Linked DNA regions of Homo sapiens. The protein of the gene in region 1 purifies or fractionates together with the protein of each later gene. This does not show direct contact. Each region holds a gene or a part of one and is shown in the gene's direction. Other genes may lie near its edges. The genes, in order: OVCA2 and MYH11.

Region 1 (15,980 bases):
CCAGTGATTTCACAACATGGAAATTATACCGGTTACCTTCTGGCTTAATGAATTGTCTCTACCTTCAGGATGAATTCAGTGAGAACGAAAGCTGGGCCAACCCCCTTGGTGTCTGGATCTGGCCCTTAAACTTGGTGGAGTTAACAGCTTAGCTGGGTCTTGTTACCAAACTCAACTTGGGTCTTCCCATCCACACAAAGCAAAAGCCAAACACTGACATGGAGATTTGCAGGGAGAGAACAAGCATTTATTGTAAGGCACCAAGCAGGGAGACTGGGCAGCTAAAGCTTAAGACCTAAACTTCCTGATGGCTTACAAGCAAAGGGTTTTTATTTTATTTATTTATTTATTTTTGAGATGGTGTCTCGCTCTGTTGCCCAGGCTGGAGTGCAGCGGCGTGATCTCGGCTCACTGCAAGCTCCGCCTCCCGGGTTCACCCCATTCTCCTGCCTTAGCTGGGACTACAGGTGCCTGCCACCAGGCCCGGCTAATTTTTTGTATTTTTAGTAGAGAGTAGTATTTCCCCGTGTTAGCCAGGATGGTCTCGATCTCCTGATCTCGTGATCCGCCCGCCTCAGCCTCCCAAAGTGCTGGGATTACAGGCGTGAGCCACTGCGCCCGGCTGCAGAGGGTTTTTAAAGGCTGGGCTTCTGGGGATCTTTAAAGTGAATTAAGGGCTGGGGAATTTCTGGAACTTTCTTACCTATTTTCTGGCTTCAGTCTGTCTGAGGTCTTACATGACAGCAATTAGTTGGCATTTTTCACCTGGTGGGGGGGTGGGTGTCCTGGTTTCTGAAAAACAACTTAGGGATATATGTCAAGGTGTTATGTGTAGTTTCTATAGGGAACCAGGCATCTCGTGACTCTGACTTGGGTGACTGTTGTTTATTATCTTCTTGTTTAGCAAGTTATTTAATTCCCTAATTGCTGGTTGTAGGGCTAGCTAAGATGCCTGGGATTTTTCTTGAGATGACTCAAAATTTTTATTTCTATGCTTGAGCGGGGGCACCGGCAGGCCCTGAAAAGGGATCCCTATTCCATCTCAATCTGGCTTCAGCCAAAGACAGACACCAACTCAGGCCTTATATCCATTCTAGGTCGGGCCCCTCGGGGCCGCGTGGCCAATCAGATCCCCCCTGAGATCCTGAAGAACCCTCAGCTGCAGGCAGCAATCCGGGTCCTGCCTTCCAACTACAACTTTGAGATCCCCAAGACCATCTGGAGGATCCAACAAGCCCAGGCCAAGAAGGGTGAGCCTGTGATCATTGAGCTGGGGTTGGGGTGGAGAGGTTGCCTGGCCCAGATGGGACAGTGTCCCCCTTGCAGCCCCTTCCTAGCCCTCCACCTCTCATGTCTCTGCTCGTCTTGCAGTGGCCTTGCAAATGCCGGAAGGCCTCCTCCTCTTTGCCTGTACCATTGTGGATATCTTGGAAAGGTGAGGCTTGGGGCACTGGAGAGGAGGGTGAGCCAGGCTTCCCCCACCCCCTATGCTCATTACCCGGGTGGGTAAAGCCCTGGTGGCGGGCATTTTTTCCTTCTGAACCTCCACCTTCCCCCTTTCCCTCCCACAACCATACACACACTCAGGGAAAACCCAAAACAAATCTCCCAGCTTGCTGAGAGCCCTGCTTGTCCCTGCAAATCCCCCCTCCCCTAAACATTTGGGACAGAGAAAGAAATCAATCCCAGTGTCTTCAAAGCTAGACCCAGAGCAGGTGGTAGGACCTGGGGAGGACCCTAAGAATTCTCCAAGCTGCCCCTGAAATGCGCTGAGTGATCAGTGGGAGGTCTGCCGGTCGGGGGCGGTGGGGGGCACCTGTTCCTCGGGCACATTTGGGGAAGTAGGGCAAGGATGGGTTTGGAGTGGGAGGTGCCTGGGAGAAGGTATTCAGTTCCTCTACATCCTACCCCTGTCACTCTAAGTTTCTGCAATACAATGAGCCATCCTTGGTGGGGAGGGTGAGAGCTCAGCCATCTGGAACCAGCACAGGAACAGGGGAGGGGAACGAAGAAAGGGGAGGTCATCTCATGCTGGGAACCTCCCACTCCCCTGCTGCCCCATCGCCCTCCCCTGCTCCTCCCTCCCCCTCCCCTTCTCCCCCATCCCCCTCCCCTGCTCCCCCATCCCCTGCTGCCCCATCCCCCTCCCCTGCTGCCACCCTCCCTCCCCTGCTCCCCCAAACCTCTCTTCTCCCCCCTTCCCCTCCCCTGCTCCCCCTCTCTCCCCTCCCCTTCCCCCTCCCCTGCTCCCCCTCCCCTCCCCTGCTCCCCATCCCCCTCCCCAGTTTCCCCATCCCCTCCCCTGCTGCCCCATTCCCCTCCCCTACTCCCCCTTCCCCCTCCCCTGCTCCCCCCTCCCCTGCTGCCCCCTCCCCTCCTCCCCCACTCCCCTGCTGCCCCATCCCCCTCCCCTGCTGCTGCCCCATCCCCCTCCCCTGCTGCTGCCCTCCCTCCCCTGCTGCCCCATCTTGTTGCCACAGACTCACTTCCCTGCTCCCACCGTCTTGCCCCTTGGGGATGCTCTCTGGGGCTCAGGCCAATTTGCATACATTTTAATCTATAAAAAATTAAGTGCTGTGGCTGACTTAGACGCCTGGGCTGCATTCTAAGGAGGTGAATAATCTGCTTCTGGGCACAGCCTGATTTGGGGAAGGGGGTGGAGGAGGGGGTGACTAGCAGGAGCTCAACTCTTCCACTGCCACACCCCCAGGGGAAGGATGGGGGGACCCCAGTCACTGAGCCAGGCTCCACGCCCCAAGTGTGAGTCTCTTTCAAGGAAGAGGGGGTTCTCCTCCATTCCTAGGGTGAGTTCAGGGGTACAAGGTCTTCCCCACCCACCCCCTCCCCCAGTGATTCAGGCCTGGCAGCAGTTCCCACGGCAGTGTTCTGGCCAGAGCCTCCTCTTCCTGATGCAGGAGGCGTGTAGGTGGTGCCATGTGCTATGGGGGAGCTGTGCCTGGGTCCCCCCATCCTGGGCACCAAGGGCCCTGCCTGCGGTGGGGAGGTAGTGGGGGTCCGGACGAGAGGGCCCTGCCTGTGGTGGGGAGGTAGTGGGGGTCCGGGTGAGGGGGCCCTGCCTGTGGTGGGGAGGGGGTGGGGGCCCTGCCTGTGGTGGGGAGGGAGTGGGGGTCCCGGCAAGAGGGAGGCTGTGTGTATTCATACAGCCACGCCCATGCCCACCACAGCACTCAGCGCGGGAGTGAGGACCTTTGGGTGTGTGTGCGTGCTCACGGCTCTGGGTGGGTGAGTCAGGGCATGGGGCGTCTGTGTTTTGACCCCACGTGTGCCGGAGTGAGGGTTGGGGTCCCTCCTGCAGCCTGAGCCTGGGTAGAGGAATGAGGGTCCTCACGCAGCAACAGTTCCAGGAGCGGCTGCCAGGCTGGGGCAGGCGGCAGCTGTGCCCCTCCTAATCTTTGTTGGCAGAAGTGGCAGCTGCCATCCCGAGGAACTGGGAGAGGTAGGGAGAGAGGAGCTGGGCCCTGAGACACCCTCCCAGGGTTGGGTCTCTCCTACCTCAGTCCCTGTGTCCCTGTCCCACCGTTCCCCGCCCCTGTGCCCGCAGGTTCACGGAGGCCGAAGTGATGGTGATGGGTGACGTGACCTACGGGGCTTGCTGTGTGGATGACTTCACAGCGAGGGCCCTGGGAGCTGACTTCTTGGTGCACTACGGCCACAGTTGCCTGAGTATGGTGGGGCCAGGACACCTGGACGGTGGCGGGGCTGGCAGGGAGGCAGGCTGCACATTCATCTTCCCCATGGCAGTGCCTTCTTGTCCTGCTTGGAGACACAAGGTCCCTCCTGGTTTCTGGGGTGGCCTCTGCCTTCCCGCTCTGCAGGTAGATCTTTCCTTTGGATTTGGTTGCCTTGGCAACGGTGCTCTGTCCCAGATGCAGGTGTTTGAAAGGCTGTTGGTTGTAGAGCAGGCTGGGCCCCGGCCGGGTGACAGAGAAGTCTGATTGAGAAGGAGCTTCTAGGGGATCTGTGACCCCCCTCTTCTCCTACCCTGTCCTTTTACCCCCAGGCTGAAGCCACTGCGCCTGGCTGCTCAGAGACCTGAGCCTGGCCGGGCCCTCTGCTGCTCCTGCCTTCCCAAACAGCCCCTGAACTCCTCCCTCCCACAGTTCCCATGGACACCTCGGCCCAAGACTTCCGGGTGCTGTACGTCTTTGTGGACATCCGGATAGACACTACACACCTCCTGGACTCTCTCCGCCTCACCTTTCCCCCAGCCACTGCCCTTGCCCTGGTCAGCACCATTCAGTTTGTGTCGACCTTGCAGGTGGGTGGAACGAGGATCCTCGGCCTCCTGCAGGGTGGACAGCGGCCACTCTCCAGCTGTTGCGGGATCCCCAGGTGCTCCAGGCTGTTTCTCAGCCCTGGCTCTCCTGCCCCAGCCGCTGGCTTCACTTCCCTCGTCATTCCTACAGGCAGCCGCCCAGGAGCTGAAAGCCGAGTATCGTGTGAGTGTCCCACAGTGCAAGCCCCTGTCCCCTGGAGAGATCCTGGGCTGCACATCCCCCCGACTGTCCAAAGAGGTGGAGGCCGTTGTGTAAGTTAAAAATGGGGGCCAAGTAAGTCCTAGAGACATGCGTGTACCCTGGGAGGGAGCCTGAGGTTCATCATCCAGGAAAGAAACCAAATCTAATGCTCCTTACCTGTGAGCCCGAGGTCACACTGCAAGGTAGGGACCAAACAGGGAGCAGACCTCAGGTTTACTGTCGCTTTCTCCACTGCCCAGTCCATCATCCAGAAGGCTGTGCAGGGTGGGGGCAGGAATCAGAGGGCCTGATGGGGGTTGAGGGTGGGCTGGAAATGGTGGGAATATAATTGGAGAAGATGGATGGGCACGCCCAGGCTGCAGCCCCATTAATTTACCATCCGGACAGCTAACAAGCAGAAGCAGCGTGTCTCCTGCCGCCTAATTATTTTAGGTAATGGAAATGCTTAATGTTGTGTGAATGCAGCCAGCCTGAGAGCCGACGGCTCCCCCGACTGGGACTAGGGAAGGGAGTCCCGTTCCGTACTAATGGCAGGGAGGGAGGGTCGCTCCCTGACTCAGTCCCACCTCTGGGGCTTTGGAGGCTGTTTCCACAGGCCTGACACCCCTGTCCCTAGACAGGCCCACATCAGGGCCTTCCCCAGCCCAGATCTGGCAGCCCTGCTCCCCGAGCAGCACTGAGTGGCATTCCCCCTGTGCCCACGTCACTCAGTCTCTACCCTTGGGGTCTTCAAAGTGTATGTTGGAGGGAGGGACACCCTGAGTGTTAGCCATTCATCAGAATGAAGTGTGGTCTCCAAGAGGGAGAGAAGGAGCTGCCACAGGCAGGTTATCTTCCACGCTCTGTAATCTTCATGGGCTGGGAAGCTACTGTCAGGGACAGCATGTCTGGGGGCACACTTGGTACAGCCTGGGTTGAGCCTCAGACACACTGCTTCCTAGCTGTTTAATACTAGGCGAGTTTCTTAACATCCCTGAGCCTCAGTTGTTACCTTCTGTAAAACAGGTATACTATACGTATCTGGGAGGATTAGGAGATAGGACTGCGTGAACTAATTCACAGCAGGTACTTAGTCTATGCCTGGTACACAGAAGGCACAAGTCCAATAAACAGTAGCTGTTGGCCGGGCACAGTGGCTCACGCCTGTAATCTCAACACTTTGGGAGGCCAAGGCAGGAGAATTGCATATGTCCAGGAGTTTGAGACCAGCTTGGGGAATATAATGAAACCCTGTTCTCTCCAAAAAAAAAAAAAAAAAAAAAAAAAAGAATTAGCTGGGTACAGTGTCCATGCCTGTAGTCCCAGCTCCTCAGGAGGCTTAGGTGAGAGGATCGCTTGAGCCTGGGAGGTTGAGGCTGCAGCGAGCCATGACCGAGTCACTCAACCTGGGTGACAGAGTAAGACCCTGCCTCAAAAAAACAAAATGAAAATCCGGTAGCTTTTGTTATAACTCAGTAACTGGCCCCAAGAGCTAGTTTGGGCAGAAAGTAGCCATTGTATGCCCTGCAACCTCATGTACAGCATAGATCAGAGGTCCCCAACCCCTGGTCCCATGTCCTGTTAGGAAACCTGCCGCACAGTAGAAGGTGAGGGGTGGGCCAGCCAGCGTGACCACCTGAGCTCCGCCTCCTGTCAGATCCGCCGCGGCATTAGATTCTTGTAGGAGCTCAAACCCTATCGTGACCTGTACATGCGAGGGATCTAGGTTGCATGATCTTTATGAGATCCTAATGCCTGATGATCTGAGGTGAGACAGTTTCATCCTGAAACCATCCCCCAATCCCACCCGTGTCTTCCACAAAACCTGTTCCCAGTGCCAAAAATATTGGTTACTGCTGGCGTAGATGACTCCTTGAACACTACTGTCCACATCTGTATTGAGCTTGTGAAGGAGAATCTGTTCCCCAACTTCCAAATGAGGATCTCTAGAACCCCAGGTGGCCTCACCACGGCCGGCTGCTCCTTCACTCTTCCTCAGAAGCTTGGGGTGGGACGGTTCTTAGATTCTGCATTATGTAAATAGAGGGACCGTAGAGTCATCCAATTCAAACTCCTTATTTCACACGTGAGAAAACCAAGGCTCCAAGAGGTGAAGTGAAGGCTTGTCCCAGTTTACACAGAGGCACAGCACAGCCAGCTGTGAACTCAGTCCTCTGGACTTTTTTTTTTTTTTGAGACAGAGTCTTGTTCTGTCGCCCAGGCTGGAGTGCAGAGGTGCGATCTCGGCTCACTGCAGCCTCTGCCTCCCGGGTTCAAGTGATTATCCTGCTTCAGCCTCCCCAGTAGCTGGGACTACAGGTGCCCGCCACCACGCCCAGCTAAGTTTTTGTATTTTTAGTAGAGACAGGGTTTCACCGTGTTAGCCAGGATGGTCTTGATCTCCTGACCTCGTGATCCACCCGCCTCGGCCTCCCAAAGTGTTGGGATTACAGGCATGAGCCACTGCACCTGGCAGCCCTGTGGACTTCTTTTTTTTTTTTTTTCTTTTTGAGACGGAGTCTCACTCTGTCACCCAGGCTGGAGTGCAGTGGCGCGATCTCAGCTCACTGCAAGCTACGCCTCCCGGGTTCACGCCATTCTCCTGCCTCAGCCTCCCGAGTAGCTGGGACTACAGGCGCCCGTCACCACACCCAGCTAAGTTTTTGTATTTTTAGTAGAGACGGGGTTTCACTGTGTTAGCCAGGATGGTCTCGATCTCCTGACCTCATGATCCGCCCGCCTCGGTCTCCCAAAGTGCTGGGATTACAGGCGTGAGCCACCGCGCCCGGCCAGCCCTGTGGACTTCTAAGCCAGCGAGTGCCTCTTCTGCTGCCCTAAACCACACTTAGCCTCCTTTCCACCCCTGCAGGTATCTTGGAGATGGCCGCTTCCATCTGGAGTCTGTCATGATTGCCAACCCCAATGTCCCCGCTTACCGGTATGGGCTGGGCCGGGCTGGGCTGACCAGCTGGTGAGGGGTGAGATTCCCTGCCACTGAGGTCCTCAATTGGTTGCATCCCCATTTCCTGGCCACTAAGCCACCAGCCCTAAGGGTCTGAGGCACTTGGGCCCTGGATCTGGGCATTAGCCCCAGGGCTGCTGTTGCCTACCCGTCTCCTGGGGTTTACACGGAGATCTTAAAGCCGCCCACTCTTGTCTGCTCCAGCTGTGGGACAGGTCTTCCTAATGACAGTCCCCGCTCTTGCCTCTGTTCTTAATTACCTGCGTGGGGCCTAAAGGTTCAGGAGCCCACGGGGCTGAGTCAGGAGCTGTGTGCATAATACTGGTCCTGACAGTGGCTGCCACAGTGACCCTGACTGCTTCTTTTCCAGGTATGACCCATATAGCAAAGTCCTATCCAGAGAACACTATGACCACCAGCGCATGCAGGCTGCTCGCCAAGAAGCCATAGCCACTGCCCGCTCAGCTAAGTCCTGGGGCCTTATTCTGGGCACTTTGGGCCGCCAGGGCAGTCCTAAGATCCTGGAGGTCAGTGGGCTCAGGACAGCCTCTGGAGGAGGGAAGTGACTGGGAACACAGCTGGGAAAACCAGTAGGCCACAGGTTCAGCTTTGGCTGCTTGACCAGGTGACCCCCACCCTGCCTCCCTCTCCCAACAGCACCTGGAATCTCGACTCCGAGCCTTGGGCCTTTCCTTTGTGAGGCTGCTGCTCTCTGAGATCTTCCCCAGCAAGCTTAGCCTACTTCCTGAGGTGGATGTGTGAGTATCTGCCTGGCTATGACTGGCTAAAGAAGCTTAGAAGCTGGGTCTTGCCCAGCTCGTCTTGAAGGCTGGAGCCAACAGGAATTGCTTCCATGGTCATGGAATTTTACTGTTTACAGAGACCTCCCTGGGAGGGCTAACTGGGTCATACCTGCTTTGGGACTTTGGGGCTCAGAGGCAATGGCAACATCACATTTGTCCTTGTGAGATGAGTTTGAGCGGTGGCTGACACCTGCCCTGTACCAGGTACTAAATGTGGTTCTGGGGATACTATCACCAGTGAGCTGCCCTGGAAAGCTCATTGTCGGCAGAGGAAACAGGAGAAAACACGCAACAATACAGTATTCCAAACAGCAGTGGGTCACTGTCTTTACTTTAGGATTCATAAAGCCTGTTAATGAATGGGTGTGCTGGGGGCACTGTCATGTTCTTCAGCATGCTGCCTGGGCGACGAGGAGGCCCTTCCTAGGGTCTGACCTGGCTTCCCTTCCCAGGTGGGTGCAGGTGGCATGTCCACGTCTCTCCATTGACTGGGGCACAGCCTTCCCCAAGCCGCTGCTGACACCCTATGAGGTAACACCAAGCTCTGGGAGAGAGTGGGCTTTGGACGTGGTTCTCAAAGGTGAGGTCTGGAGTGGAGTGGGGTGGGTGGGCAGCACTTCGTTATGTTCGTAGATTCCGGAGTCTGTCTCGATTTCTCCAGCGGAGTCACTTCCTAGCTGTGTAGCCTTAGGCAAGGCCCTGAACCACACAGTTCCCTTCTGTGGCAGGGGACAGTGTGCCCTTCACAGGCCGTCGTGAGGACTGAATTCAGTAATCCAGGGGCAGAAAAACACTGGCAGATGTTATTGTCCCTCCCTCCCCTCCCCTAGGCGGCCGTGGCTCTGAGGGACATTTCCTGGCAGCAGCCCTACCCGATGGACTTCTACGCTGGCAGCTCCTTGGGGCCCTGGACGGTGAACCACGGCCAGGACCGCCGTCCCCACGCCCCGGGCCGGCCCGCGCGGGGGAAGGTAGGCGGGGGCTTCCAGGAGGGAGGAGAGACCGCGCCTGGGCACTGGCCGCCGCCCTGCGACCGCGACGGGAAACGCACAGGAGCGGAGCGGAGGGAAACGCAGGGTCGCAGGAGCGAGACCCTAACCAAAGTCTGCGACCTCAGGTGCAGGAGGGGTCCGCGCGTCCCCCTTCGGCCGTGGCTTGCGAGGACTGCAGCTGCAGGGACGAGAAGGTGGCGCCGCTGGCTCCTTGACGCGCTCCCGGGCCTCAGGTATCAGCCCCCGCTCTGGGTGCGCCCCGCCTTTTGCCGTTGTCATGGGAACGCCTTGGCGCTCCGAGGCCCGCCCTCGGGGCGGTGCTGACGTTCGGTTCCGCCCCGTGCATTGTGCTTCCGCTCGGGGAAAGACCGCTTCCGGTGCTTCCGTCGCTCCTTGCCGGGCATAATGGCCGCGCAGCGACCCCTGCGGGTCCTGTGCCTGGCGGGCTTCCGGCAGAGCGAGCGGGGCTTCCGTGAGAAGACCGGGGCGCTGAGGAAGGCGCTGCGGGGTCGCGCCGAGCTCGTGTGCCTCAGCGGCCCGCACCCGGTCCCCGACCCCCCGGGCCCCGAGGGCGCCAGATCAGACTTCGGTGAGACAAGCCCCGCTCCGGAAACGCACTCAGTTTCCTCCATCTTGTTTCGTCCCCCTCGACACCCTTCAGCATCCCCCACCCTGCGTCCACCCGCATTCCTCCCACCCAGTCCACACCCTTCATTTCTCGCGACCCATACCCTCTTTGCTCAAACTGCAGCCTGTCCTCCCAGGCTTCCGCCTTCACCGTCTTCCTCCGCTGTCTCCTGTTCAGGCCAATCCACTCATTTCCCCCCTCTCATTTCCCCCAGACTTTTGCCTCGATTCCCTTTTTCTCTCTGTCATCTCGAACCCTCCTGCCCTTTCTCATTTCTTTCCTTCCTGGAGCCTCCCATGCCCTAATCCCATCCTTTTTCCTCATATCGCTGTAGGGTCCTGCCCTCCGGAGGAGCAGCCTCGAGGCTGGTGGTTTTCAGAGCAGGAGGCCGACGTTTTCTCCGCATTGGAAGAGCCCGCCGTCTGCAGGGGCCTGGAGGAATCACTGGGGATGGTGGCACAGGCACTGAACAGGCTGGGGCCTTTTGACGGCCTTCTTGGTTTCAGCCAAGGGGCTGCGCTAGCAGCCCTTGTGTGTGCCCTGGGCCAGGCAGGCGATCCCCGCTTCCCCTTGCCACGGTTTATCCTCTTGGTGTCTGGTTTCTGTCCCCGGGGCATTGGGTTCAAGGAATCCATCCTGCAAAGGCCCTTGTCATTGCCTTCGCTCCATGTTTTTGGGGACACTGACAAAGTCATCCCCTCTCAGGAGAGTGTGCAACTGGCCAGCCAATTTCCCGGAGCCATCACCCTCACCCACTCTGGTGGCCACTTCATTCCAGCAGCTGCACCCCAGCGTCAGGCCTACCTCAAGTTCTTGGACCAGTTTGCAGAGTGAAAGATCAAGAAATGTCTCTGCTCCTACATCCAGCTCCTCTAGGGGCAGCCTCCGTCATCCATGCCCTCCCAGGACCCTCCACTCACTGCTGTGAGTGCGCCTCACCAGAACCAGTTAAGAGACAACTATCAATTCTTGAGACCCAAATTATAAGGGCCCTGCCCTGTACTGAAGAAAAGGGGAGCACAAGGCCTTAATGGACATTGACTTGTGAAAACGCAAACATGAATATGGTTGGAGAGCCCTGGATTAGGAGGGTGACATGGGGAAGGCAGAGGCTGGCACCATGGTGACTGCCACATAATAAAGTGGTGATTTGGATTTTGAGCATCTTTTTCCTGGTACACACAGAAAAACATTTTATAATGGAAGTCGGTTTCTTGGCCATCTACATAGTTTTCTGGGCAGCGCCAAGCAGGGAGGTGTCTCCAGTTGTGAGTCCTCGGACAGGCTGCTGCATGGGTGCACATACTCACGTTATTGGTGGAAGTTTTAAGTCCCAAACTGAAGGGAAGGAGGCCTAGGTGGCACAATCAGGGAGGAATATACATCTGAGAAGTTTTGGGAAGACATCACCTGGCAAGGCTGCCTGAACCACAGTAATTTAGTCTTCCTCTATCCAGATCACTGAGAGTTGTGTGCTGGTCTTCTCTCAAACCCTGGATGTGTTACCTGCTTCTCCCTAAGTGCTCTAACCTCGCTGAACTATGAGCCTGAAGGGTGGGTCGATGCCAGACCTTAGGTGGAGGCCAAAGACAGTACAGAATAAACAGCTTCTTCCTAAATTGACCCCATCTTGAGGGTTTCTGAGATTGATGCCATTCTTTAGTGACTACAGCCAAGGCCTAAGCAATCCAGCTGGTTTTCCCCTTGGGGCGTGTAGTTGTTCTTGGATACTTTGAGGATTGCTCACTCTTTTTTTTTTTTTTTTTGAGACAGGCTCACTCTGTCACCCAGGCTGGAGAGCAGTGGCCAAGATCCTGGCTCACTGCAACCTCAGCCTCCTGGGTTCAAGCAGTTCTGTCTCAGCCTCCTGAGTAGGTGGCGTTACAGGCATGCGCCACCACGCCTGGCTAATTTCTATATTTTTTTGTAGAGATAGGGTTTTGCCACGTTGCCCAGGCTGGTCTCAAAACTCTTTAGCTCAAACAATCCACCTGCCTCAGCCTCCCAAAGTGCTAGGATTATAGGCCTGAGCCACTGCACCTACCTAGGATTGCCCACTCTTTTTTTGTTTTCTTTACTTTTAAAGACAAGGTCTGACTCTATCACCCAGGCTGGAGTGCAGTGGCACAATCTTGACAGCCTCCACCTCCCGGGCTCAAGCCATCCATCCTCCCACCTCAGCCTCCCAAGCAGCTGGGGCTGCAGGCGCAAATCACCATGCCTGGCTAATTTTTGTATTTGTTGTAGAGAAGGGGTCTCACCATGTTGTGCGGATGGTCTCCAACTTGCGAGCTCAAGCAATCCACCTGTCCTGGCCTCCCAAAGTGCTGGAATTAACAGGCGTGAGCCACCTCACCTGGCCAATTGCCCACTCTTAATGAGTTCCCTCCCATTTCCAGTGCCACCTGACACCCCCCACCCCCTGACACACACACACACACTCTTGTTTTCTGACTTCCTGCCTCTGCAAGACAAGAAGCCTGTTCTTTTTCTGGAAGATCACACCAACTCCTGTTTAGCCCTCAGACATAGTTGCCAGGGAGCTAAGCAACTGAGCAGGAATTATGGTCAGGGACACAGCACAAATACTCCAGCCCATTTTTCTGACAACCAGACTAATATCCCTTACATTACCGAAAGTTCTGGGTTCCTCACTACAGAGATTAGCTGTCCAAAATTAAAAAAAACAAAACAAAACAGAATTATCCGCCCAGAGACCTAGTTACTGGGTGTGGAAAGTGTGTGTGGGGAGGGGTGGGAGGTGGTTCTCCCTTGCTTCAGTTGGCTTCTGCCTTGTTTTAAGGAATCTTCTCCTTTAGCAAAAGGAGGAGACTTTGGAATGGATTGATTACACAGACTGTGGTATCTGACCCATTGAATTTTAGAAAAAATTCTGATTTAAAGTTTCAGAAATTGCACAGAAAATTTCAGATTTCTGGCTTCTCTGGAAATGATAGATTTGCAGTTCAGGGCTCCCATACCCTCATGGTAATCATAGGCTGCCCCCTTTAGCACGGTCCCAAGAGGTGAAAACGACTTGTACACCCCAGCTGCTTGGGATTATTGAGGACGAAAGTAGAGAGAAGGGGAGAAATATTGGGGAGTGAATTTTGAGCCAAGGCTTAAAATTAAAAGTGGGGGAGGTAGAGCCCAGCAGTAGTAGGTGGAGGAGAAGGGCTCCTGGCCGGGGGTGAGGATTCCTCCTGAGAACCATAGTGTCCAAGCTAGAGGGAAACATGGGGTCCACTAGTTCTCGACAAGTGGAACAGGTCACTTCCCATCATGCCGTCCAGGAGCAAGAGAGACTCTTAGGGGGTTGTGCCCCTCCCCACCCCCAATACGCAGATTCTGTGTACCATTTACATCCAGAACATTGGTTAAAACCTGAATTCTGGCCCTGCGTGGTGGCTCATGCCTGTAATCCCAGCACTTTGGGAGGCGGAGGCGGGCAGATCACCTGAGGTTGGGAATTTGAGGCCAGCCAGACCAACAGAGAGAAACTCTGTCTCTACTAAAAATACAAAATTAGCCAACCATGGTGGCGCATGCCTGTAATCCCAGCTACTTGGAAGGCTGAAGCAGGAGAATTGCTTGAACCTGGGAGGCAAAGGTTGCGGTAAGCCGAGATCACGCTATTGCACTCCAACCTGGGCAACGAGAGCGAAACTGTCTCAAAAAAAAAAAAAAAAAAAAGTAGCTGGGCGTGGTGGCATGCACCTGTAATCCTAGCTACTTGGTAGGCTGAGGCAGGAGAATTGCTTGAACCCAGGAGGCGGAGGTTGCAGTGAGCCGAAATTGTGCCACTGCACTCCAGCCTGGGTGACAGAGTGAGACTCCATCTCAAAAAACCAACTTGAATTCTGGGGCCAACTCCAGATGTACTGAGTCAGAATCACTGGGACCCAGGAATCTGCATTTTGGCAAATTGCCCCCATCATTCCCAAGCAGGGATTTGAAAAGCCACTGCCTTAGGGGTTGAATGAAAGCCTCGGGTGAGGGTGTGTTATCTGAAAAACCCCTAGTGTGACTCTCTTGCAACCCACCAGGGAGGGGAGCAAGCTCCCCAGAACAATCACTGCTTAAACATTTTCAATTTATAGCAAAGGAAAATTAGGTCTGAAGGATAGAAATAGGAATAGCATTTATTTATTTACTTACTTATTTGAGACGGAGTCTCGCTCTGTCACCCAGGCTGGAGTGCAGTGGTACAGTCTCCGCTCTCTGCGACCTCCGCCTCCTGAGTTCGAGCGATCCGCCTGCCTCAGCCTCCAGAGTAGCTGGGATTACAGGTGTGCATCACCACTCCCAGCTAATTTTTGCATTTTCAGTAGAGACAGGGTTTCGCCATGTTGGCCAGGCTGGTCTTGAACTCCTGATCTCAAGTGATTCGCCCACCTCAGCCTCCCAAAGTGTTGGGATTACAGGTGTGAGCCACTGCACCCGGCCAGAAGAGCATTTATTGAGTAATAACTGTATACCAGACATTGTAATAAGCAAGAGCTTTAATGCGGCCTAATTTAGGGCCAGGTGCGATTGCTCATGCCTATAATCCCAGCACTTTGGGAGGCTAAGGCATGAGGATCAATTGAGCCCAGGAGTTCAGAACCAGCCTGGGAAACATAGTGAGACCCCCTCTCTACAAATAATTTAAAAGTTAGCTGGGTGTGGTGGCATGCACCTGTGGTCCCAGCTACTCGGGAGGCTCAGGTGGGAGGATCACTTGAGCCCAGGAGTTTTGAGGCTGCAGTAAGCTGTGATTGTGCCACTGTATTCCAGCCTGGGAGACAGAGCTAGACCCTGTCTCCAAAAAAAAAGAAAAAAAAACAAACTACAAAAATTGGCTGGGGGTGGTGGCACACACCTGTAGTCCTAACTACTCAGGAGGCTGAGACAGGAGAATTGCTTGAACCTGGGAGGCGGACGTTGCAGTGAGCCGAGATCATGCTACTGCACTTCAGCCTGGGCAACAGAGCAAGACTCCATCTCAGAAGAAAAAAACAAATAAAATTATATATATATAACACATATATATTTTATATATATTAGGCAATAAATATATATAGCTTAAACCTTACAACTTCATGTTTAATCTCACAACTTCATGAGGTAGGTACCATTATTATTATTATTATTTGAGACGGAGTGTCACTCAGCCACCCAGGCTGGAGTTCAGTGGCACGATCACGGCTCACTGCACCTCCGTCTCCTGGGTTCAAGTGATTCTAGTGCCTCAGCCTCCCAAGCAGCTGGAATTACTGGCAAGCACCACCATGGCTGGCTAATTTTTTGTGTTATTAGTAGAGACGGAGTCTGACCATATTGGCCAGGCTGGATTATTATTAAGACAGGGTCTACCTCTGTCACCAGGTGCAGGATCATGGCTCACTGCAGCCTCGACCTCTTCGGCTCAAGTGACCCTCCCGCTTCAGCCTCCTGAGTAGCTTAGCTGAGACTACAGGTGCCACCTATCACACTGGCTTTTTTTTTTTTAAGACATGGGGTCTCACTATGTTGCCCAGGCTGGTCTCGAATTTCTGGGCTCAAGCAGTCCTCCAGCCTCTGCCCCGCCCCGCAAAATGGTGTGATTACAGGCATGAGCCATGTCTCCCAGCCCTAAATAATGATTTTTTTTTTTTGAGACAGGGTCTCACTCTGTCATCCAGGCTGGAGTACAGTGGTGCAATCACAGCTCACTGCAGCCTCAACCTCCCAGCCTCAAGCAATCCTCCCACCTCAACTTCCCAAGTAGCTGGGACTACAGGTGTGCACAACTAATTTTCTTTCTTTTCTTTCCTTTCTTCTTTCCTTTCTTTCTTTTTTGTAGAGATGGGAGTCGCATTGTATTGCCCAGGCTGGTCTCGAACTCCTGGGCTCAAGAGATCCTCCCACCTATGCCTCCCAAAGTGCTGGGATTACAGGCGTGAGCCACTGTGCCCTGCCCTAAATGATTTCTAAGATGCTAAACAACCCTGACGTACGGTCAATCCTCTGGTTCTTTCCCCTCTGACCACATTCTGACCTCTTCTCAGAATATCCCAACCATTTCTGTTTTCCACCTCTGATTCCACCTTGGATTCCTAGAGCTCTTAGGAGAGAGAACCCCCTTAGCAAGGAACC
Region 2 (16,290 bases), on another chromosome or scaffold:
CGTTTCTCAATCTATCGATAGCCCTTAAACGGGAAGAGTGCTGGTTCAGGGTCACAGTGTGAAATTCCTAAAACAACCCAGGAGAGAATAGGTTTGACAGGGCTGGGTGTGGTAGCTGACACCTGTAATCCCAGGCACTTTGGGAGGCCGAGGCAGGAGGATTGCTTGAGCCCAGGAGTTTGAGACCAGCCTGGGCAACATGGCGAGACCCCTATCTCTACCAAAAAAAAAAAACTTTAAAAATTAGCTGGGCATGGTAGCATGTGCCCGTAGTCCCAACTACTTGGGAGGCTGAGGCAGGAGGATCATTTAAGCCCAGGAATTTGAGGCTGCAGTGAGCCATCATCACACCACTGCACTCCAGCCTGGGCCGCAGAGCCAGACCCTGTCTCTGAAAATAAACAAATAAATAAATAAGTTAGTCAGAAACAGCTGGTGTAGGCTGGGCATGGTGGCTCCTACCTGTAATCCCAGCACTTTGGGAGGCCAAGGTGGGTGGATCACCTGAGGTCAGGAGTTTGAGACCCACCTGGCCAACATGGGAAACCCCATCTCTACTAAAAATACAAAAATTAGCCAGGCATGGTTGTGGGCACCTGTAATCCAAGCTACTCAGGAGGCTGAAGCAGGAGAATCACTTGAACCCCGGAGGTGGAGTTTGCAGTGAGCTGAGATCGTGCCACCGCACTCCAGCCTGGGCAACAAGAGCGAAACTCTATCTCAAAAAAAAAAAAAAAAAAAAAAGAAAGAAAGAAAAAAGAAACAGCTAGTGCAGCTGGGGAGTACGGGAGCCCCCTTAGGAATGATGCACATAGTTGTGTTTTCTGAGTGGTGTTTGGATCTCAGCTAAGTCCAGGGCATGTTGTGAGCCCTGGGTCTTCCTTGTCCACTGAAAAAGGCTCTGTCCTGTAGATGATTTAAGTTGTTTGCAGCCAGACAACACATGTGTCACACAGGGTTTCTGGAAGAACCTGAGTTGGGGAGATTGGGGCATGTCCCTGTGCAGGTTCAGGATGCTGCAGGGCAGGGCTCTGTTGACAGCAGGGTGTGGCTTCATGACCCCCGCACCTTCTCTTCCCCCCTCCCTAGGGCTTTTGCCAAGAGGCAGCAGCAGCTGACCGCCATGAAGGTGATTCAGAGGAACTGCGCCGCCTACCTCAAGCTGCGGAACTGGCAGTGGTGGAGGCTTTTCACCAAAGTGAGTGCTCTGCCCCAGCCCCCTTCCCAGGGGCCCCCAGCCCTGCTTCTTCACTCTGGAGCCTTCACATTTGGGACAGGAGGTGGTCGCAAGTGGGTGTGGAATGGAGGGCTCGAACTCAGACCTTGAGCATTGGCGGTTCTCTGGCCCGAGGAGGCCCTGTCCTTTGGCACATAGGCTATAGCCAGGACCTTAACACAAAGTATTAATATTTCCATCCGCACTGGAATCCCTCGTGTGGCCCATTTATAGCCACACCCACTTCCTCCGTAGCCATGGAAACCACTCTGTTCTCCAGTTCTGTAATTTTGATGGTTCAAGAATGCTGCCGGGGGCGGCGGCTCACGCCTGTAATCCCAGCACTTTGGGAGGCCGAGGCAGGCGGATCACTTGCGGTCAGGAGTTCAAAACCAGCCTGGCCAACATGGCAAAACCCTGTCTCTACTTAAAATACAAAAATTAGCTGGGTATGGTGGCAGGCACCTGTAATCCCAGATACTCAGGAGGCTAAGGCAGGAGAATCTCTTGAACTCAGGAGACAGAGGTTGCAGTGAGCCAAGATCATGCCTGCACTCCAGCCTGGGTGAAAGATTGAGACTCTGTCTCTTCTTTCTTTTTTTTTTTATTTAAAAAAAAGGCCAGGCACGGTGGCTCACGGCTGTAATCCCAGCACTTTGGGAGGCCGAGGCGGGTGGATCACAAAGTCAAGAAATCAAGACCATCCTGGCCAAGATGGTGAAACCCTGTCTCTACTAAATGTACAAAAATTAGCTGGGCGTGGTGGCAAACGCCTGTAGTCACAGCTACTCAGGAGGCTGAGGCAAGAGAATCACTTGAACCTGGGAGGCAGAGGTTGCAGAGAGCTGAGATCGCGCCACTGTACTGCACTCCAGCCTGGTGACAGAGCGAGACTCCGTCTCAAAAAAAAATAAAACAAATATTCTATACATGGAATTAGAGAGCATCCAGACTGTTGCATGTATCAATACTGCAGGTTTTTTTTTTTTTACTTTTTGCATTTTTTGAAATGGAGTCTCACTCTGTTACCCAGGCTGGTCTTGAACTCCTGACCTCAAGCAACCCTCCTGCTTCAGGCTCCCAAAGTGCTGGGATTACAGGCATGAGCCACCTCATCTGGCCATAGCATATTATTTTTTATTTCTGGCAGAGTCAGGGCCTCCAGAGGACTCAACTGGTTCCTGTAGTGGCACTGGTTGCATTGTCCCCATGGCACAAAGACATGCTCTGTTGCAATAGACTAGGCTTCTCCTTATATGCCCTTGAGTGTATCCACTGGTGCAAGGCTTTTTCACCAAGCAAACAGACATTGAGTGCCTGCTGTATCCCAGGCACATGCTAGGTGCTGGGGGTGCAGCTGTGAACACACACCATGGTCCCTGACCTCCATGAATATTCTAGCCGAATTGGTGGGGAGTAAACAATAAACAGATAATCACAGAGACAGATACATAATGGCAAACTGTGATAAGTGCATGAAGCAAGCTGCTGGAGTACATAGCAGGGGCTTCCTTGTGCCAGGCAGGGGCTTGAAAACAAAGAGTTAGGAGGCAGCCCAGGGAAGGACAGCAGATGCTGCTTTTTGGAAATGTTCGTCCCCACTGAACCAACTTCTGAAAAACTATCCTAAGAAAATCGTCTTAGCCAGGTGTGGTGGCTCATGCCTGTAATCCCAGCACTTTGGGTGGCCAAGGCAGGAGGATCACCTGGGTTCACGAGTTCGAAACCAGCCTGGCCAACATGGCGAAACCCTATCTCTACTGAAAATACAAAAATTAGCCAGGTGTGGTGGTGGGCACCTGTAATCCCAGCTACTCAGGAGATTGAGGCAGGAGAATCACTTGAACCGAGGAGGCAGAGGTTTCAGTGAGCTGAGATCGTGCCACTGCACTCCAGCCTGGGTGACAGGGCGAGACTCCACCTGAAAAAGAGAAAAGAAAATCAAGAGTTAAGGGCATTCATTATGGCCTTATTTACAATAGCAGAATTTCAGTGTCCAGTCCTAGCTGAATGATGAGTTCAATAATGGTTCATCTATCAATGGAATGTTTTCAGCTATTAAAATGATGGCTTTGGCTACTGAATAGGTCTGCTAAAAAAAAAAAAAAAAAAGACTTCTACCTAGCTGTCTAGTTGGACACTGTGGCATGTGCCTGTAGTCCCAGCTACTCTGGAGCTGGGGTGGGAGGATCGCTTGAGGCCAGGAGTTCAAGGCTGCAGTGAGCTATGATTGTGTCACTGCACTCCAGCCTGGGTGACAAAACAAGACCATCGCTAAATAAATAAATTAACTTAAAAGATGGCTATGTAAAGTTGTAAGAATGATGTAACAGCATGGGGTAATACATATCTTATAATTTTTAAAAAAATTTTATTTGTGGAGACAGGGTCTCACTGTGTCACCCAGGCTGGAGTGCAGTGGCACAATCGTGGCTCACTGCAGCCTCAGCCTGCAGGGTTCAAGCGATCTTCCTGCCTCAGACCCCTCACTAGCTGGGACTACAGGCACACACCACCATGCCTGGTTACTTGTTTTTGTAGAGATGGGGTCTCATGATGTTGCCCAGGCTGGTCCCAAACTCCTGGGCTCAAGCGCTTGCCTCGGCCTCCCAAAATGCTGGGATTACAGGCATGCATCACTGTTCCTGTCTGTATCATATAATTTTAAATAATAAAAGCAGCCTCTACAACTAGGCAGCATGGTCTTAAGTCTATTTTTTAAACATAGAAAAAGAGCCAGGAAGGAAATGTAAACAATGTTAATAATGACTTTGATAGGGAGGTGGGTGGGATATGAAAGATTTTTTTTCTCCCTTTTGTCCTTGGAAGGAAATATCACTTTTCAGCAGTAGTTCTCTGTTGGGATGGTTCTAAAGTGGGGAAGATGAGACTTTTTCCTTTCACTTTGTACCTTTTCTGGTGCTCTGATTTAGAGCTCCTCAGTCTTGCCACTGTTGATATTTTGGGGTGACTAATTCTGTTGTGGGGGCTGTCCTGTGCACTGTAGGGTGTTTAGCAGTATCCCTGGCCTCTACCCACTGGATGCCAGAGGCACCCCCCACCCCAGCTGTGACAATCAGCAGTGTCTCCAGACAATATCCCCTAGTGGGGATCGGTGGGGGCAACATTGTCCCTGGCTCGGAACCACTGATCGAATTTATTATGACAACATATCCCTTTGCCACAAAAACAAATGATGGGCTAACCGTGTGTGTGCAGGTGAAGCCACTGCTGCAGGTGACACGGCAGGAGGAGGAGATGCAGGCCAAGGAGGATGAACTGCAGAAGACCAAGGAGCGGCAGCAGAAGGCAGAGAATGAGCTTAAGGAGCTGGAACAGAAGCACTCGCAGGTACCTGTATGGATGCATGGCTGGGGTTGCTGGGGAACAGGACTTGGCCCCGTGGGGCTCACCCGCCTCCTCCCCACCACCTGCGTGCAGCTGACCGAGGAGAAGAACCTGCTACAGGAACAGCTGCAGGCAGAGACAGAGCTGTATGCAGAGGCTGAGGAGATGCGGGTGCGGCTGGCGGCCAAGAAGCAGGAGCTGGAGGAGATACTGCATGAGATGGAGGCCCGCCTGGAGGAGGAGGAAGACAGGGGCCAGCAGCTACAGGCTGAAAGGAAGAAGATGGCCCAGCAGATGCTGGTAAGGTGTCACAGGGGCAGCCCGTGGTGGGTAGCAAATCACTTGACCCTCACCACAGGCCTGTGGAGGTGCATCCAGGGATATGTGTCCCTGCTGGGACAGATGATGAGACGGGGGCTTGGAGAGGGTTGGTCATCTGATCAAGGCCACACAGCTGGGATTGGGACTGGAACACAGTGAGCCCACTCTGTTCTATTGCCCTGCCTTGCATGTGCTAACCCCTTTTCTCCTAACAGCAAGCCTGAATGGAGGATAATTGTATTTGTTAGCTATTGCTACATAACAAAACATGCCAAACTCAGCAGCTAAAAATAAAAAGTATTGCATAGTCAGGAATTTGAGAGTGGCTTAGGTGAGTGGTTCTGGCTGAGGGTCCGGCCTGAGGTTGCAGTCAAGGTGTTGGCTGAGGCTGCAGTCATCTGAAGGCTCATCTGGGGCTGGAGGACCCACTTCTACTTGGCTTATTCACACAGCTGTTGGAGGAGGCCTCAGTTCCTTATCATGAAGGCCTCTCCCCTCAGGGCTGCTTGAGTGTCCTTCCAATATGGCAGCAGAGTTCCCCCAGAAGGAGTGATCTGAGAGAGGAGAAAGGAAGCCGCAATGCCTTTTATAGCCTAATCTCTGAAGTTACATTCCATCACTTCTTCCTGATTTTTGTTGTTGTTGTTAGAAGCAAATCTAACCCCCACTCAAGGGGAGGAGAATTAGGCTCCACCTTTTTGGAGTCGCAAAGAACTTGTGGATAGATTTTAAAACCACCATGGTACCTACTGTGCTCATTTTATAGATGAGGAGGTTGAGGTTCCATGAAGCAGAGCAGCTTACCCAGGTCTTTATTTTTTTTTTTTTTTTGAGACAGAGTCTCACTCTCTTGCCTAGGCTGGGGTGCGATGGTGCGATCTCAGCTCACTGCAACCTCTGCCTCTCGGGTTCAAGCGATTCTCCTGCCTCAGCCTCCCGAGTAGCTGGGATTACAGGAGCCCACCACCATGCCTGGCTAATTTTTTTTGTATTTTTAGTAGAGACGGGGTTTCACCATGTTGGCCAGGCTGGTCTTGAATTCCTGACCTCAAGTGATCCACCCACCTCGGCCTCCAAAAGTGCTGGGATTACAGGTGTGAGCCACCACGCTCAGGCCTTTATTTCTTCCTTTTAGGAGGCTACAGAGTTCTGGGCATCTTCAGGCCTAGCCCCTGTATTCATTAGTCCCCAGATCACCACGAGAGTAAATCTGTTATAACCAAAGCTGTTACTCTTTTCCCTCCACAACAAAGGACCTTGAAGAACAGCTGGAGGAGGAGGAAGCTGCCAGGCAGAAGCTGCAACTTGAGAAGGTCACGGCTGAGGCCAAGATCAAGAAACTGGAGGATGAGATCCTGGTCATGGATGATCAGAACAATAAACTATCAAAAGTGAGTAGGGGCCGGGTGCAGTGGCTCACGCCTATAATCCGAGCACTTTGGGAGGCCAAGGTATGTGGATCACTTGAGGCCAGGAGTTTGAGACTAGCCTGGCCAACAGGGTAAAACTCCATCTCTACTAAAAATACAAAGATTAGCCAGGTGTGGTGGCCAGTGTCTGTAATCCCAGCCACTTGGGAGGCTGAGGCAGGAGAATCACTTGAACCTGGGAGGTAGAGGTTGCAGTGAGCTGAGATCGTGCCACTGCACTGCAGCCTGGGTGACAGAGTGACTCTGTTTCAAAAAAAAAAAAAAGTGGAATCAAGTTTCTGCATTAAAAACAACAGGCTTACCAGGATCAGGGAGATTTTGGGGATTTGGGACTTTCAGTTCTCAAAGCAGAAAAGCCCTTAGAAAACCAGGACAAGCTGGTCACCGTAGTCAGTAGTCACTAACCAGCCCCACCTGCTTTTAGTTCTTTGAGCTGGATGTCAGCTTGGCCCCTACTGTGAGCCAGGCTCTGTGTTAGATGCAGGTATGCATGGTGAAGGAGGACCCTTCCCTTGTGGGGTTTATACTGTAGTGAGATGGCAAATAATCGTCATTTACCATGGTGATCAGGGCTCTGAAGGAAACGTTCACCATATTTTAAGAGTGCGGCAGGCCGGGTGCGGTGGCTCATGCCTGCAATCCCAGCACTTTGGGAGGCTGAGGCAAGTGGATTACCTGAGGTCAGGAGTTGGAGACCAGCCTGGCCAACACGGTAAAACCCCATCTCTACTAAAAATACAAAAAATTAGTTGGGTGTGTTGGCGGGCGCCTGTAGTCCCAGCTACTCGGGAGGCTGAGGCAGGAGAATCACTTGAACGTGGGAGGCAGAGGTTGCAGTGAGCTGAGATAGCAACACTGCACTCCACCCTGGGCGACAGAGTGAGACTCTGTCTCAAAAAAAAAAAAAGAATACAGCAGTGGGGGATAGAGGAAGGGTATTCATAGAAGACTTCCTGGAGGAGGTGACATTTAAGCAGAAACTTAAAGATGAAGGAGCAGTTAGAGGGGAGTAGAAGAGCATCTCAGCTGGTTGGCCCACTGTGCAAAGGCCCTGGGGCAGGGAAGAGCTGGCCAGTGGCAGGAATGGAAGGAGGGTACCTTTAGCTGACCATACAATATGAGGGACAAACTGGCACGAGATGAGAAATGGCCAGTTTTTGGAAATTGTTATGGGACTTCTCTTTACCATTTAAAACTCTAGTTGTATTTTGTTATAATGTGGGTTTTTCTTTCAACTGTTTACATGGAAATCACTAAAAGTGAAACATAGATTCTAGAGAAAAGAAAAATCCTAAAGCTATCTCTTTCTCTTTCCCCAAAAAGGAACGAAAACTCCTTGAGGAGAGGATTAGTGACTTAACGACAAATCTTGCAGAAGAGGAAGAAAAGGCCAAGAATCTTACCAAGCTGAAAAACAAGCATGAATCTATGATTTCAGAACTGGAAGGTAAACCAGCTACCAAGAGATTTATTTTTATTTTATTTTATTATTTTTTTTAGAGATGAGGTCTTGCTCTGTTGCCCAGGCTGCAGTGCAGTGGTGCGATCATGGCTCACTGCAGCCCGAAACTCCTAAGCTCCAGTGATCCTCCTGCCTCAGCCTCCTGAGCAGCTGAGACTACAGGCGTGCATCACCACACCCAGCTAATTTTTTTTTATTTTTTATTTTGTAGAGATGGGGTTTCACTATGATGCTCAGTCTAGTCTCAAACTCCTGGGCCCAAGCAGTCCTCCCACCTTGGCCTCCCAAAGTGCTGGGATTATAGGCATGAGCCACTATTCCTGGGCTTGAATGGGTATTTTTAAAAGCAGGAAAATCAGAAAGGAAATTTGAGGATGGCAGATCATCCCATGAGTGACAACTAACTCTATGCCACCTCTCGAAATCACCCTTAGTCATCACATGCACTAATAATATGATAAAAGGGCTGGGTGCGGTGGCTCTCGCCTGTAATCCCAGCACTTTGGGAGGCCGAGGTGGGCGGATCACGAGGTCAAGAGTTGGAGACCAGCCTGGCCAACATGGTGAAACCCTGTCTCAAAATACAAAAATTAGCCAGGCGTGGTGGCGGGCGCCTGTAATCCCAGCTACTCGGGAGGCTGAGGCAGGAGAATTGCTTGAACCCGGGAGGCGGAGGTTGCAGTGAGCTGAGATTGCGCCACTGCACTCCAGCCTGGGCAACAAGAGCAAAACTCCATCTCAACTAATAATAATATTATGACAATATAAGGTGCTGTTCATCGGGAGATAATGGTCCAGACCGTGACTATGATGGTTACTGATTGGGGGATGTGTTCATCTCCTCCGGGTAAAATGCCTGGGCAGGAAGGCTCATTTCCGGGCATCTCTCTGGGGCCTCCCCTTCCTGAAGAGCACCTTGGTTTTTGCAGTGCGGCTAAAGAAGGAAGAGAAGAGCCGACAGGAGCTGGAGAAGCTGAAACGGAAGCTGGAGGGTGATGCCAGCGACTTCCACGAGCAGATCGCTGACCTCCAGGCGCAGATCGCAGAGCTCAAGATGCAGCTGGCCAAGAAGGAGGAGGAGCTGCAGGCGGCCCTGGCCAGGTAGCGGGGCTGGCAAGGGGCATTTGCTGTGTGTCCATGTATCCCCTGGGCCCCTGCTCATTCGCTCATTCGCAGTGGCTGTCTTGGTCAAGGCGGCCCCAGGCCCTTGGCATGAACTTCGTTTCCCAGGCCAGGCCTCCCACAAGCCTTCTCGACCCTGTTCACTCCCCCAGATCCTCACCTTCGACTTTCTTCTCTTCCCTGCAAACACATCATGTCTTTGCAGTTGATCTCACCTACTCCCATGGTGTTGCTGCTGCCTCTTCGACATCCAGGCTTTTCTCATCTAGACCCCCTTCTGAATTTCCGATTGCCCAATGAGTCAATTTCCACCGTCATCTCAAACACCCCTGTCTAAGGCGGGAATGACCTTCCTTTCCCCAGCCCCTCCCTCTAAGGGCCCTCTTTTTTGTGAACACCAATCTCCTCCTTTGTTTCTGCCGACCCACAGCAAGCAGCAACCTTCAGATTCTGCCAGTCCTTCTAAATGTCCCCCACCCATTTCCTCTGGTTTTTCCCTCTTCCTGGCTCTTAGCTGGATTTACACTAATGCTAATACTGCAGCAGCCACTATGAATGATTATTTACCTGCTCACTCGGTGCTAAGTTCTTTTCAAGCAATACCTTTGCAGACACCTGGCCAGGTGTACTGCCGGTGTCTTTGAGGAGGAAGCTGAGCCTCCTAGGGGTAACGCAACAGGAGCAATGTCATTGCTTCTAAGAGGCAGAGCTGGGATTTAAGCCTCAAAGCTTTCTGATTGATCCCCTGGCCTGGCTCTTTTGTCGGCCAATTTGTGCTATGTTGACAGTGCTACGGTGATGAAGGGAAAGCATCTCTCTGGGGCAGGAACCTGCTCACAAAACTTTGCTGGCTGGATGCAGTGGCTCACGCCTGTAATCTCAGCACTTTGGGAAGCCGAGGTGGGGGGATTGCTTGAGGCCAGCAGTTTGAGACCAACATGGGCAACATAGCAAGACCCTGTCCCTACAAAAAGTTAAAAAATGAGCCAGGCATGGTGGTGTGTGCCTGTAGTCCCAGCTACTCAGGAGGCTGAGATGGGAGGATCACTTGAGCCCAGGAGGTTGAGGCTAAAGTGAGCTATGATCATGCCACTGCACTCCAGCCTGGGCAACAGAGCAAGACCCTGTCTCAAAACAATAATAACAACAAAACAAAAACCTAACTTCACTGGCTTACTAGGGAAAATCCAGTTTCCTTAGCCTCACCCTCAGAGCCCATCCACCCTCTGCAGTCTCACCCCAACCCAACTATTTCACTTTCTCTCTTGTTGCTGCCCTTTCACAAGTACAGTAAAATCAAAGTGCTTGCCTCTCCTGCAGCATTCTGCCATTTAACAGGGCTTCTTGCAGCCCACCTTGATCTCTGGTCACCACCTCCACCAGATGCAGAGCCCCAGTCTGAATATCCCCCGCAAGCAGTGGCTGGCCAAATGCTGTGCATGGGGCGGGTACTCAGTCACTGAGCAAATGCAGAAAGAACAGACAGTTGCCAGGGAAGAAGAACTGTCCAACATTCAGAAAGCATCTACACAGTCCCTACTGTGACCAGGTACCTTGCCAGTCTGGGGTCAATGCTTTGCATTCTTGCACACACATGCACACACGTGCATACACACGTACACACACCCATGCACATGTACAACCTGTTTTGATGTCAGACCTTGGCACTCACATCCTATGTTAATCTCATATAGTCTGGCATGTCAAGAAGCAGACCTGGGGACATGGATAGAAGGTGTTTGATGTCTCTGCAACATAACTGTCTGGTCCCAGAAAAGTTTTTGGCCACATTGTAAGAGAGGAAACCAAGGGACCTGGGGGTTCATTCTGCTGGGTCTCTCCCTGGAAGGCTTGACGATGAAATCGCTCAGAAGAACAATGCCCTGAAGAAGATCCGGGAGCTGGAGGGCCACATCTCAGACCTCCAGGAGGACCTGGACTCAGAGCGGGCCGCCAGGAACAAGGCTGAAAAGCAGAAGCGAGACCTCGGCGAGGAGCTGGAGGCCCTAAAGACAGAGCTGGAAGACACACTGGACAGCACAGCCACTCAGCAGGAGCTCAGGTGAGGGGCCCATCAATCCCACCATCCTGCTATCCCACTGCACCAATGGGATGGGGGCAGAAGAGGGGACAAACCCAAAGCAAATCGTGCATCAGCCCCTGTGCATTTACCTTCCTGGCCGCGGTTTGCTTTAACTTATAGAAGCATGGTTGGCTGTTTCTTTTTTTTCTTTCTTTTTTTTTTTTTTTTGAGGCAGTCTGGCTTTGTTGCCTAGGCTGGAGTGCAGTTGTGCCATCTTGGCTCACTGCAACCTCCACCTCTGAGATTTAAGCGATTCTCATGCCTCAGCCTCCTGAGTAGCTGGGATTACAGGTATGTGCCACCACACCCGGCTAATTTTTTGTTTTTAGTAGAGATGGAGTTTTGCCATGTTGCCCAGGCTGGACTTGAACTCCTGGCCTCAAGTGATCCACCCACTTCCGCCTCCCAAACTGCTGGTATTACATGTGTGAGCCACTGCACCCGACCCTCATCATCTTATTTCTCATCAGAAGAGTAGTATATACCAGGGATGTACAATCTTTTGGCTTCCCTTGGCCACATTGGAAGAAAAAGATTTGTCTTGGGCCACACATAAGATACACTAACACTAATAATAGCTGATCAACTAAAAAAATTTTACAAATTGGAAAAAACATCTCATACTGTTTTAAGAAAGTTTATGACTCTGTGTCAGGCTGCATTCAAAACCATCCTCATTGGTAAGCTTGGATATACTCAGAGAACAATTTGAAAACTATAGAAAAGCAGACATAAAAAAAAATCACCTTTAGGGTCGGGCTCACGCCTATAATCTCAGCACTTTGGGAGGCCAAAGACAGGTGGATCACTTGAGGTCAGGAGTTCAAGACCAGCCTGGCCAACATGGTGAAACCCTGTCTCTACTATAAATCCAAAAATTACCTGGGCGTGGTGGCGCATGCCTGTAAATCCCAGCTACTCAGGAGGCTGAGGCAGTAGAGTCACTTGAATCTGGGAGGCAGAGGTTGCAGTGAGCTGAGATCGCACCATCGCACTCCAGCCTGGGTGACACAGTGAGTGAGACTCCATCTCAAAAAAAAACAAAAAACAAAAAAATCACCCTTAGTCACACCAGTTAACATTCTTGAGAAATTCCTTCCTGTCTGTGTGTGTATCAGTCAGTCCCCAAGCTCCAATTCCCAAGTATGTGTGTGTATCACTTTTGTGTTAAATTTTAAAAATAAAATTGATCAGATTGGTTTTCAATTGAAGATTCACTTCAAATGAACAAACAATAACAAACTGCCTGCCAGATCACGAATCCTGACTCTAGTGAAACTAGGTCATTGATTCATTCAGTAAACACATAAATGTATTTTGATGCAATCTGTGGTGTTGGCATAGCATGTATCATAGCATATAGCTATGCTAGCTGTGCCAACACCATATACCCTGGGGTTTACTTCCCCCACTTTGGGTTTTGTGCAGTGTCACATGCACATAGAGCACAGCGTTCTGCTCCCTTGCCGCTTGGCCTTTGATACAGAAGAGCCCAGTGCATGGGCCAGGTATGGTGGCTCATGCCTGTAATCCCAGCACTTTGGGAGGCTGAAGCAGACAGATCACCTGAGGTCAGGAGTTCGAGACCAGCCTGGCCAACATCATGAAAACCTGTCTCTACTAAAAAGACAAAAATTAGCCGGGCGTGGTGGTGGGCGTCGGTAATCCCAGCTACTTGGGAGACTGAGGCAGGAGAATCCCTTGAACCTGGGAGGCAGAGGTTGCAGTGAGCTGACATCATTCCACTGTACTCCAGTCTGGACGACGGAGCAAGACTCGATAAGAAAAACAAACAAACAAAACAAAAAACCAGGCTGAGTGCGGTGGCTCACACCTGTAATCCCAGCACTTTGGGAGGCTGAGGCGGGTGGATCACCTGAGGTCAGGAGTTCGAAACCAGCCTGACCAACATGTTGAAACCCCATCTCTACTAAAAATATAAAATTAGCCGGGCGTGGTGGTGGGCACCTGTAATCCCAGCTACTTAGGAGGCCGAGGCAGGAGAATCGCTTGAACCCGGGAGGTGGAGGTTGCAGGGGGCCAAGATTGCGCTGTCGCACTCCAGCCTGGGCAACAGGAGTGAAACTCCATCTCAAAAACAAACAAACAAAACCATGGACTCAAGGTCAAGGTTTAGCTTCTAATTCTGGCTCCATCACACAATGGCTGTGACACCATGGGTAAAACTGCTTACCCTCTCTTAGCCTTAGTTTCCTCATTTGTAAAATGGAAATAATAACACACCTGCCTCTTTGGGTTGCTCTGAGGATTAGATGATGTATATAAAAAACTTAGCTCAGGGCCTGGCATATAGTAACTGCTCATTAAATAAGAGCCAACATTAATATTTAAGCAAAATTTTGCAGTTCACAGACATCCTTTCAATTCTATTACTTTGTGTATTTGTTTGCCAGTCATTACAGATGTCCTAGGCAGGTGATATGCTCCACATTTTGCAGCTGAGGAAATTTTAGGTCCAGAGATGTTAGGTGAATGACCCAAGGTCACACAGCTAGAGAGGGGTGGTGATGAGGACTGCAGCTCTGGGTCCTGGAAGAGCTCTCATTCTTTTGCACGGCACTGAGATGACCCTCTGTCTCCACCCAACTGCCATTCACTGTGTTCCTCCCACCAAGGGCCAAGAGGGAGCAGGAGGTGACGGTGCTGAAGAAGGCCCTGGATGAAGAGACGCGGTCCCATGAGGCTCAGGTCCAGGAGATGAGGCAGAAACACGCACAGGCGGTGGAGGAGCTCACAGAGCAGCTTGAGCAGTTCAAGAGGGTAATGCTTTTTGGTGATGCTTTTTGGTGATGACACATAAGAGTGACATCAGCAGCCTCAAATTACTACAGGTCAGGGTCTGCATAAAGACAAAAAACAAGTTACATAAGATTCTAATGATGATGATAGCAGCTTATATTTATTTACAAAATGCTTCCCATACAGGCTGGGTGAGGTGGCTCACGCCTGTAATCCCAGTACTTGGGGAGGCTGAGGCGGGAGGATCGCTTGAGCTCAGGAGTTGGAGACCAGCCTGGGCAACATAGTGAGACCTTGTTTCTACTAAAATTTTAAAAAAGTAGGCCAGGCGTGGTGGCTCAAGCCTGTAATCCCAGCACTTTGGGAGGCCAAACTGGGTGGATCACCTGAGGTCAGGAGTTCGAGACCAGCCTGGCCAACATGGCGAAACCCTATCTCTACTACAAATACAAAAAATTAGCCGGGCGCGGTGGTGCATGCCTGTAATCCCAGCTACTCGGGAGGCTGAGGCAGGAGAATCACTTGAACCCAGGAGGCAGAGGTTGCAGTGAGCAGAGATCATGCCATTGCACTCCAGCCTGAGCAACAGAGCAGGATTCCATCTCAAAAAAATAAAATAAAATAAAATATTGGCCAGGCCTGGTAGTGCATTCCTGTGGTCCCAGCTATTTGGGAGGCTGAGGTGGGAGGATCGTTTGAGCCTGGGAGGTTGAGGCTGCAGTGAGCCCTGTCATGCCACTGCACTCTAGCCTGGACGACACAGTGAGACCTTAATCAAACAATAAAAATAGGCTGGGCACGGTGGCTCACCATGTCTGTAATCCCAGCAATTTGGGAGGCAAGGCGGGCAAATCACTTGAGCTCAGGAGTTCGAGACCAGCCTGGCCAACATGGTGAAACCCCATCTCTACCAAAAATATAAAGAATTAGCTGGGTGTGGTGGCATGTGCCTGTAATCTTAGCTACTCGGGAGGCTGAGGCAGGACAATCACTTGGACCCAGGAGGAAGAGGTTGCAGTGAGCTCAGATCGTGCTACTGCACTCCAGTCTGGGCGACAGAGTGAGCCGCCATCTCAAAAAAAGAAAAAAAAAAAAGAATGAATAGAAATGCTTCTCATACAGTATGTCAATTAATCTTCACAACCACCCTGTGAGACGTGTACTATTAAACTCATTTTACAAGCAAAGAAACTGAGGTCCTAGGTGCCTAGAGGTGAAGAGACTTACCCAAGGTCACACTGCTGGTAAGTGACAGAGCCATGATTTGCACCCAAACAGTCTGGTCCTAGACCCCACTTTCTGGCCTCTACAGGACTGAAGGCCTATAGGATGGGTGGGGCCTATCAATATACTGCCCTTCAGGGATAAGCAAAGGTGTAACAACACTTTCGGGGAGATTTAAATGAAACTTAAAACTGGGATCATTCTATCCACTTTAATTTCTCTGCAGACTGGAGGAAGGCCAGGCATGGCGGCTCATGCCTCCCGTAATCCTAACACTTTGGGAGGCCAAGGAGGGAGGATTGCTTGAGCCCAGGACTTTCAGATCGCCTGGGCAACATAGCGATTTTTCTTTTGTAAAAAAAAAAAAGACTGGAGGAAACTTGTCATTATTTGATTTCAATGGCAGAACAGCTCTCTCCGGCATAATTTGAGAATGACTAGGTCAAATCACTCTCCCGTTGTTGGAACTCTTTGCGGTGTATGGGAGTGGGAGCTGGTAAATAGCAGTACCGAATGCTGAATCTTGGGTGCTCTTCTCTCCTTTGGGGTAGTGCCTGTGCTTCATTCCCCAGGGTAAGTTTTTTAGCTTGCGACCTTCGGCCAGATTGTTTTCCTGAAAGCCTGAGTTACATTACCCTCAGCGTTGCAGCTCCTCCACATCCCCTTCAGTGGAAGCTTTTGGTTCTGCTAGATTAAGTGGGTGCAGCATTGCCTAAAAATTTTGGGGAATTTGCATTTGGTTCTATCACTAGTGTATTGGTCCGTTGTTGCACTGCTCTACAGAAATACCCAAGATTGGATTATTTGTTTATTTTTTGAGCAGTGGAGTCTTACTCTGTCACTCAGGCTGGAGTTCAGTGGCGTGATCTTGGCTCACTGCAACCTCCACCTCCTGGGTTCAAATGATTCTCCTGCCTCAGCCTCCCAAGTAGCTGGGACTACAGGCACACACCACCATGCCCGGCTAATTTTTTTTTTTTTTTTTTTTTTTAGTAGAGATGGGGTTTTGCCATGTTGGCCAGGCTGATCTCGAACTCCTGACCTCAGGTGATCCACCTGCCTTGGCCTCCCAAAGTGCTGAGATGACAGGTGTGAGCCACTGCACCACCCTGAGATTGGGTAATTTCTAAAGAAGAGAGGTTTAATTGGCTCACGGTTCTGCAGGCTGTACAGAAAGCATAGCAGCTTCTGCTTCTGGGGAGGCCTCAGGAAACTTACCATCATGGTGGAAGGCAACGGGGAGGCAGGCATGTTTTACATGACCAGAGCAGGCAGAAGAGAGAGAATGGGGAGCTGCCAGACACTTTTAAACAACCAGATCTCA

The links.
Region 2: the proteins of OVCA2 (region 1) and MYH11 purify together in Homo sapiens (affinity purification with mass spectrometry; 3 studies listed by BioGRID and IntAct, with this or other methods). This does not show direct contact.

Annotation. Positions count from the first base shown.
Region 1 is NC_000017.11:2,032,408-2,048,387, forward strand, and holds OVCA2 (esterase OVCA2), read left to right. Parts: upstream 1-9,614; 5' UTR 9,615-9,640; coding exon 9,641-9,824; intron 9,825-10,197; coding exon 10,198-10,697; 3' UTR 10,698-11,018; downstream 11,019-15,980. Other genes in the region: DPH1 (2-(3-amino-3-carboxypropyl)histidine synthase subunit 1), read left to right, coding at 1,098-1,250, 1,372-1,435, 3,563-3,684, 4,122-4,279, 4,428-4,549, 7,348-7,416, 7,811-7,967, 8,098-8,198 and 3 more. UniProt on the Homo sapiens protein: Exhibits ester hydrolase activity with a strong preference for long-chain alkyl ester substrates and high selectivity against a variety of short, branched, and substituted esters.
Region 2 is NC_000016.10:15,730,037-15,746,326, reverse strand, and holds part of MYH11 (myosin-11), read left to right. Parts: intron 1-1,089; coding exon 1,090-1,198; intron 1,199-4,435; coding exon 4,436-4,567; intron 4,568-4,657; coding exon 4,658-4,864; intron 4,865-6,138; coding exon 6,139-6,276; intron 6,277-7,638; coding exon 7,639-7,762; intron 7,763-8,706; coding exon 8,707-8,878; intron 8,879-10,748; coding exon 10,749-10,961; intron 10,962-13,618; coding exon 13,619-13,763; intron 13,764-16,290. UniProt on the Homo sapiens protein: Muscle contraction.